Linked DNA regions of Homo sapiens. The protein of the gene in region 1 purifies or fractionates together with the protein of each later gene. This does not show direct contact. Each region holds a gene or a part of one and is shown in the gene's direction. Other genes may lie near its edges.

Region 1 (3,500 bases):
TGCAACCTCCACCTCCCAGGTTCAAGCGATTCTCTTGCCTCAGCCTCCCAAGTATCTGGGATTACAGGCATGCACCACCATGCCCAGCTAATTTTGTATTTTTAGTAGAGATGGGGTTTCTCTGTGTTGGTCAGGCTGGTTTTGAACTCCTGACCTCACACGATCCACCTGCCTCGGCCTCCCAAAGTAAAAGTTTTATTTTTTATATCTTTATGTATGGGATAACCCAACACATTTTGTTAAAAAGGACATTTTGAAAATCATTTCTGAAGCTGATAAAAGACATTTGGGAACCTGTCGCTTTGGGGATGTGTGGGTGTGTGGAGCCCTGGAACTGTCCCGGGCTGGCTGTAGCACTGTCAGGGCACCTGTCAGGCCAGCAGTGAGTCTCGTGTGGGAACATGAGCTTGAGGTTCTTCTTTGTATCTCACTCTAGATGGGATGCATAAAACAAAACCTGAAATAATCAGATTTGCTGAAAATAACTACAGAGTAGAATTTAAAACTTGAGTATGTTGAGGGAAGGAATATATATATCTGGGAGAGAATGGATACGTTTTGTTTTTCTGAAATGGAATTAGAAAGATGTTCAGTTGTCTTGTGCATTCTTGCAAACCTTGCAGTTTTGAGAGCCCTGTTTCTGCCTTGTATCATTTTCCACTGTGTATCTGATTCTAGGAGCGTGAACAGGGAGACAAAGGTGAAGTTTGTGCACACCTCTGTCCATGGGGTGGGTCATAGCTTTGTGCAGTCAGCTTTCAAGGCTTTTGACCTTGTTCCTCCTGAGGCTGTTCCTGAACAGAAAGATCCGGATCCTGAGTTTCCAACAGTGAAATACCCGAATCCCGAAGAGGGGAAAGGTGTCTTGGTAACCTAATTTTTTTTTAAATTATGAAATCTGCTTTTATATTCAAAACTATTACTGTCAAGTAAAATACATTTTTATGTGTTTTCATTGTGCTGAAGAAAAACTAATTTCAGCATGGAAATATGTATGTTTGGCTGGGTGCAGCGTCTCATGTCTGTAATCCCAGCACTTTGGGAGACCAAGGCAGGCAGATCACTTGAGGTCAGGTGTTCGAGAACAGCCTGGCCAACATGGCAAAACCCTGTCTCTACTAAAAATACAAAAATTAGCTGGGTGTGGTGGTACATGCCTGTAATCCCAGCCACTTGGGAGGCTGAGGCGCTAGAATTGTTTGAACCTGAGAGATGGAGGTTGCAGTGAGCTGAGATTGCACCACTGCACTCCAGCCTGGGTGACAGGGTGACAGAGCGAGACTTTGTCTCAAAAAAAAAAAAAAAAAAAACAAGAAGTATGTATATTTGTTAGTCATTAATTTCTTAAAGGATCTTTCAAATTAAACACCCCAGGATCAGGATATGAGAACTGAGCTCTAAATGGTGCTTCAAATTCAGTTAATTTAATTTAATTTAATTTGCCGTGTCTCCTTAATGCCAAAAAGAAGCAGTAATAGAGTGAAACTTTAGCAGGTTATGATTTTTATTTCTTGTCATTTTTCTGATATGAAGTGTTGCTTACATTATGGTTTCTGTAACATTTTTAAAGGTTGGGGTAGCAGTGGCATTCAGAGAATCAGTTTATTTTGTTTTATTTGTGAGGCTGATCACACAGCAATGCCCCGAAATACCAGTCCAACCACAGACCTACTGGCGCATGTGCAGCAGGCACACTGGTAGGCTTGGGTCACACACCGATGCTCCCATTATCTGACCTCTGACTTAGGAAGATACTATGTGACCAACCAAGACCAGCTGCAGCTTTTGTTTGCTAAATTTCACTTCTGGAGCTGTCTTGGTTGGTCCTATATTATCTTTCTAAGAGGGGAAAGACCTCTTGAGTTCTTAAGGAACTGAATGTTTTTAAAGACTATCATATGCTCGATTCTTGATTAAATAATCTTTTATTTTCATATTCTTCTTCAGACTTTGTCTTTTGCTTTGGCTGACAAAACCAAGGCCAGAATTGTTTTAGCTAACGACCCGGATGCTGATAGACTTGCTGTGGCAGAAAAGCAAGACAGGTAAAATTAATTGTGATTACCTATATTATAGAACATATAAAGGATGATCTCTTCATTGGTAAAATGTTTCTGGGGAGACGGGACCTATTTGGAAACATTTCCCATTTATTTTGCAAATGATCATTTCACTGAACCTCCTGTAGAGTCTTCTAATGGAGAGCAAGATAGAGATCTAGTGTGGGGGGAGGTTACGTGATTGGCAAGCATAATGCAGAGTAAATCAACCCAGTATATATTTCAAATTGAAACTCCTATTTGGGAACTTCTCATTTTGTAATTGATCTTTTTATAAGTAATGTCTCAGTGTCTAATGAGGGTAAAGCACTTTGGTGCTAGCTGTATGCTTCAGTATTTGCTGAGGGGTTTAGGAGGGAGCAGTACCTTCAAGGAGATGCTGAATTTAGTTTGGACAGACCAGGGAGGAATTCCTGTGGGGTATCGGCACAGTGTTTAAGACAAGTCTGACCAGAGAGTTTGTACAAAGGAGAAGTAAGTACGTGGGGCTAAAGTTGAAAGGTAGGCAGGGCCCAAGCAATTTTGGGCGTCAGGTAGCCTATGTGATGTTTTGGGGGCAGGAGGGTGCTGCTGCTGAAATGGTAGGGTTTTCAGATTGTGATAAAACAGGTTCCATTCTATATCAGTGTTGAGAAAGTTAAGCTAAGATGATACGTCCTGATAGGTGAGATTTACTTCTAGCCATCTGGACTGCCAAGAGAAGCAGAAATTACACATCTTTTCTCTGATGTTCTGACCATTTAGGACTGAGCTTGATCTTAAGGGGTACTGAGCTGTCCCCTCTCAGAATCAGCAATACTGACCAGTCCAGAAATTGAGATAGCAAAACTTACTCTATATATGGGGGATCTTGCCAGCATATTTGTTATATTTAAAACCAAAGGCTTTGCCAAAGATTAATATAGAGCCATTGTGTGTCATGTGTGACATACTTATTTTATACAGTCTTCAAAGACAGGATGTCTGTTCAGGCAAACTGGCTGATATATATGGTAGCTGCTCAGATGTTTGTAAAATGGCAGTTACATTTCTGACCAGTTATTTAAAGATGATGAATAACAAGAACAGCCTTGCAGAAAATACTTAGATGCTTTGTTTGCTAAATTGTTTTATCCCCATGACACTTTAGAGTCTTCCTTAAGATTATGGAAATGAATGGTGGTTGTTGTTTTTTTTTTCTTTCAGTGGTGAATGGAGGGTGTTTTCAGGCAATGAGTTGGGGGCCCTCCTGGGCTGGTGGCTTTTTACATCTTGGAAAGAGAAGAACCAGGATCGCAGTGCTCTCAAAGACACGTACATGTTGTCCAGCACCGTCTCCTCCAAAATCTTGCGGGCCATTGCCTTAAAGGAAGGTTTTCATTTTGAGGTAGGGTGTTTCTGGGACTCACTCATTTTCCTTTCATCTGCTCTGTAGAAGATCTAAGGCATGTCTTTCTCTTT
Region 2 (3,500 bases), on another chromosome or scaffold:
GAGATTACAGGCGTGAGCCACCACGCCCAGCCTTGATTTTTTTAAAAATATGAGTGTAATGTATTTCCCCTGCTAATTAAGTAATTAACTAAAATTAAATAAAGGTCAGGAGACAGAAGAGTACAAGAAAGAAGGAAAAATGGTTAATCTTTTTTTTTTTTTTTTTTTTTTTGTGTGTGTGTGTGTGAGATGGAATCTCGCTCTGTCGCCCAGACTGGAGTGTGGAGTACAGTGGCACAATCTTGGCTCACTGCAATCTCTGCCTCCCGGGTTCAGGCGATTCTCATACCTCACCCTCCCAAGTAGCTAGGATTACAGGTGTGCACCACGACACCTGGCTAATTTTTGTATTTTTAGTAGAGACGGGGTTTCATCATGTTGGCCAGGCTGATCTCGAACTCCCAGTCTCAAGTGATGTGCCCGCCTCGGCCTCCCAAAGTGCTGGGATTACAGGTGTGAGCCATCATGCCCAGCCAAAATGGTTAGTCTTAATTTTGTCATGCAGAGTTATGCTTGGAAGAAGTGTTTTCTGGTCAGTAATTTGTGAGTCTTTAAATTGCAATACTAGAAGCCAGATATGCATCTAATATGTGTATGTATGATCTTTCATAAACATAGGAGTTTAAGACCAAACTGGCCAACATGGTGAAACCCAATCTCTACTAAAAGTACAAAAATTAGCTGGATGCAGTGGTGTGTTAGACATTTTCTACATGAACTGGTCTTGCTAAGATCACCAGTGACCTTAAAATGTTTACTAGTACTATTTAACCTCTCCACGTATTTCATACTGCTTGGCCATTGCTGCCTGACATTCTCCCCTAGGTTCTATCTTCTCTATCCTTGTTTCACCTGTTCTTCCTTTGTGCCTTTCCTTCCTCTTTTCTTCCATATTTTCCTGGTTCCTTTTTCTTTCTAATAGTCTCTTAAATATTGATCTTTTCCAGAATTCTTTCCTTAGCCTCTTCTTATTTCTAGTAATCTATCTGGGTATTTTTTAAATCCACTCTTATGGTTTTAATTACTACCTGAATATAACTTTGAAATTTGTACATCTCACCTAGATCTCTCTGGGTTTTTTTTTTTTTTTTTTTTGAGACGGAGTCTCGCTCTGTCACCCAGGCTGGAGTGCAGTGGCGCGATCTCGGCTCACTGCCAGCTCTGCCTCCCAGGTTCACACCATTCTCCTGCCTCAGCCTCCTGAGTAGTACACCCAGCCTCCTGAGTAGTACGCCCGGCTAATTTTTTGTATTTTTGGTAAAGATGGGGTTTCACCGTGTTAGCCAGGATGGTCGCGATCTCCTGACCTCGTGATGTTTTGTTTTTTGAGACAGAGTCTTGCTCTGTTGCCCAGGCTGGAATACAGTAGCACAATCTTGGCTCACTGCAACCTCTGCCCCCGCCGGGTTCAAGCAATCCTCCTGCCCCAGCCTCCTTGGTAGCTGGGATTATAGGCTCCCGCCACCATGCCCAGCTAATTTTTCTATTTTTAGTAGAGATTCACCATGTTGGCCAGGCTGGTCTCGAACTCCTGACTTCAGGTGATCCACCCGCCTCAGCCTCCCAAAGTGCTGGGATTGCAGGCGTGAGCCACCATCTGAGAATTTACATTGTACCAGAGCAAAATATTTTAAATTAAAAAACAAGAAACAATTTTAGCCAAAAAAAGGAAAACCACCCCAAAATAGATTTTTTTTAAAGAAATAAGGCGTCAAAGACATTCTAGAAACCTTACCCAATCCAAACTTTGGCCCCAGTTCTAACCCTTGCCCTTGCCTTGTATTGCCTTTATGCCACCAACTTTATAAGCCATGCTTGGTTATGATGATTATTAGAGACACAGGTACTTAAAATAGGACAGGGGTTCTAGCCACTATGTCTTCCAATCCCTGTTATTTGTAAAACTTTATGATAATGGAGAAGTTATATACTGTTGGCATTTTATTATTAAATTAGATGTTTGCCTGTTTTTAAGGTGGCTTGTGTTTTTGTTTTTTGGTTTTTTCTTAGGCATCTGTGGGAAAACTAGAATTGCAGAAGTTGGAGGTGTGCCTTACTTATTGCCTCTTGTAAACCAAAAAAAAGTAAGTACTTTTACTCTGCATATTCACATGAAGATTGTAGAAGTTGGGTTGATTACTGTGTTTATTATTAGAAGACCTGTTGATCAGTTGGCAAGGAAGTGCTAATGGATCAGTAATAAAAGGTAAACCAGGGACTTTGTACAAGTTGTGACTTAAATAATATTTTTTCCTCTTCTATAGGTTTATGATCTGAATAAAATTGCAAAAGAAATCAAGCTGCCTGGAGCCTTTATTCTTGGAGCAGGAGCAGGTCCATTTCAGACTCTCGGGTTCAATTCTGAGGTCAGCATATATAAGAAAATTATTTTACTTTATTGGTTTGACATTTGGTTTGTCTTTTTGCTTTTAGTGCCAAAAATCCTACTTTCTGAGTGAATTGTAAATCTCTCTGCAGGTTTGATACTACTTGATGTAGATTTCTGCTATAGCACACACTCCAACTGGACTAACTGTAATGGAGTACTAACTTGTAGTTTTAGATTTTCTTAGGTCATAGCTTCAGCCTTAGATAAATGCAGGGTTCTATGGTATTCTGTTGAAGGTTCTGGATTATAAAATATTTATATTCTTACAGGATTCCGAGCTTATCTATAAATCTTTGCTTTGGGTATGCAGGCAGCTTTGGATTAGAAGATGAATGGAATATTAGTGATCTAGTCAACTCCTTCTTCCACACCAAATAGTAGGAAACTATCACAATAGTATGATGGTTATTTATGAAAGTTAATAGTTATTACTAGTATATATTATTACCATATGAAAATATTACTGTTTCTTTGAATCTCATGAATACAAGACTTCAGTCTGCTCATTCTCTCATAACCTCTTCAGATATGAATAGTAGTCATACAAGTTCTTTGCAGAAACATTAGTACAATTTGCCTAGTGTTCAAGTTAGGAAAAAAAGTTAAAAATTTAAAATAAGATATTTAACGCAAGTTATAGATACACTGTAAGAAATCCAATAAATATCTTTTTTTTTTTTTTTTTTTTTTTTGAGATGGAGTCTCGCTCTGTCGCCATGCTGGAGTGCAGTGGCGCGATCTTGGCTCACTGCAACCTCCACCTCCCAGGTTCAAGCAATTCTCTTGCCTCAGCCTCTTGAGTAGCTGGGACTACAGGTGTGTGCCACCACGCCCAGCTAATTTTTGTATTTTTAGTAGAGACAGGTTTTCACCATGTTGGCCAGGATGGTCTTGATCTCTTCTCTTGACCTCGTGATCCGCCCCCCTTGGCCTCCCAAAGTGCTGGGATTACAGGCATGAGCCACAGCGCCCGGCCTATAAATGTTTTCCAAGTTTTTTATGTCTAAAATTAAATATTATGTATTTTATGTTCTCTTATTAGGACTTGAACTAAAATGTCTTAAAAGGATTAAATGTTTTGTAACATTATTCAAGATATTCTCTTTGCAGA

Evidence for each region. Proteins that work in one complex are often made in the same cells at the same time.
Region 2: the proteins of PGM2 (region 1) and C11orf54 fractionate together in Homo sapiens (co-fractionation; one large-scale study listed by BioGRID). This does not show direct contact.

Annotation. Positions count from the first base shown.
Region 1 is NC_000004.12:37,843,686-37,847,185, forward strand, and holds part of PGM2 (phosphopentomutase), read left to right. Parts: intron 1-678; coding exon 679-868; intron 869-1,947; coding exon 1,948-2,045; intron 2,046-3,245; coding exon 3,246-3,426; intron 3,427-3,500. UniProt on the Homo sapiens protein: Catalyzes the conversion of the nucleoside breakdown products ribose-1-phosphate and deoxyribose-1-phosphate to the corresponding 5-phosphopentoses.
Region 2 is NC_000011.10:93,751,672-93,755,171, forward strand, and holds part of C11orf54 (ester hydrolase C11orf54), read left to right. Parts: intron 1-2,010; coding exon 2,011-2,084; exon of another isoform or gene 2,085-2,088; intron 2,089-2,264; coding exon 2,265-2,366; intron 2,367-3,500. UniProt on the Homo sapiens protein: Exhibits ester hydrolase activity on the substrate p-nitrophenyl acetate, in vitro. Regulates DNA damage and repair by regulating HIF1A degradation via chaperone-mediated autophagy (CMA).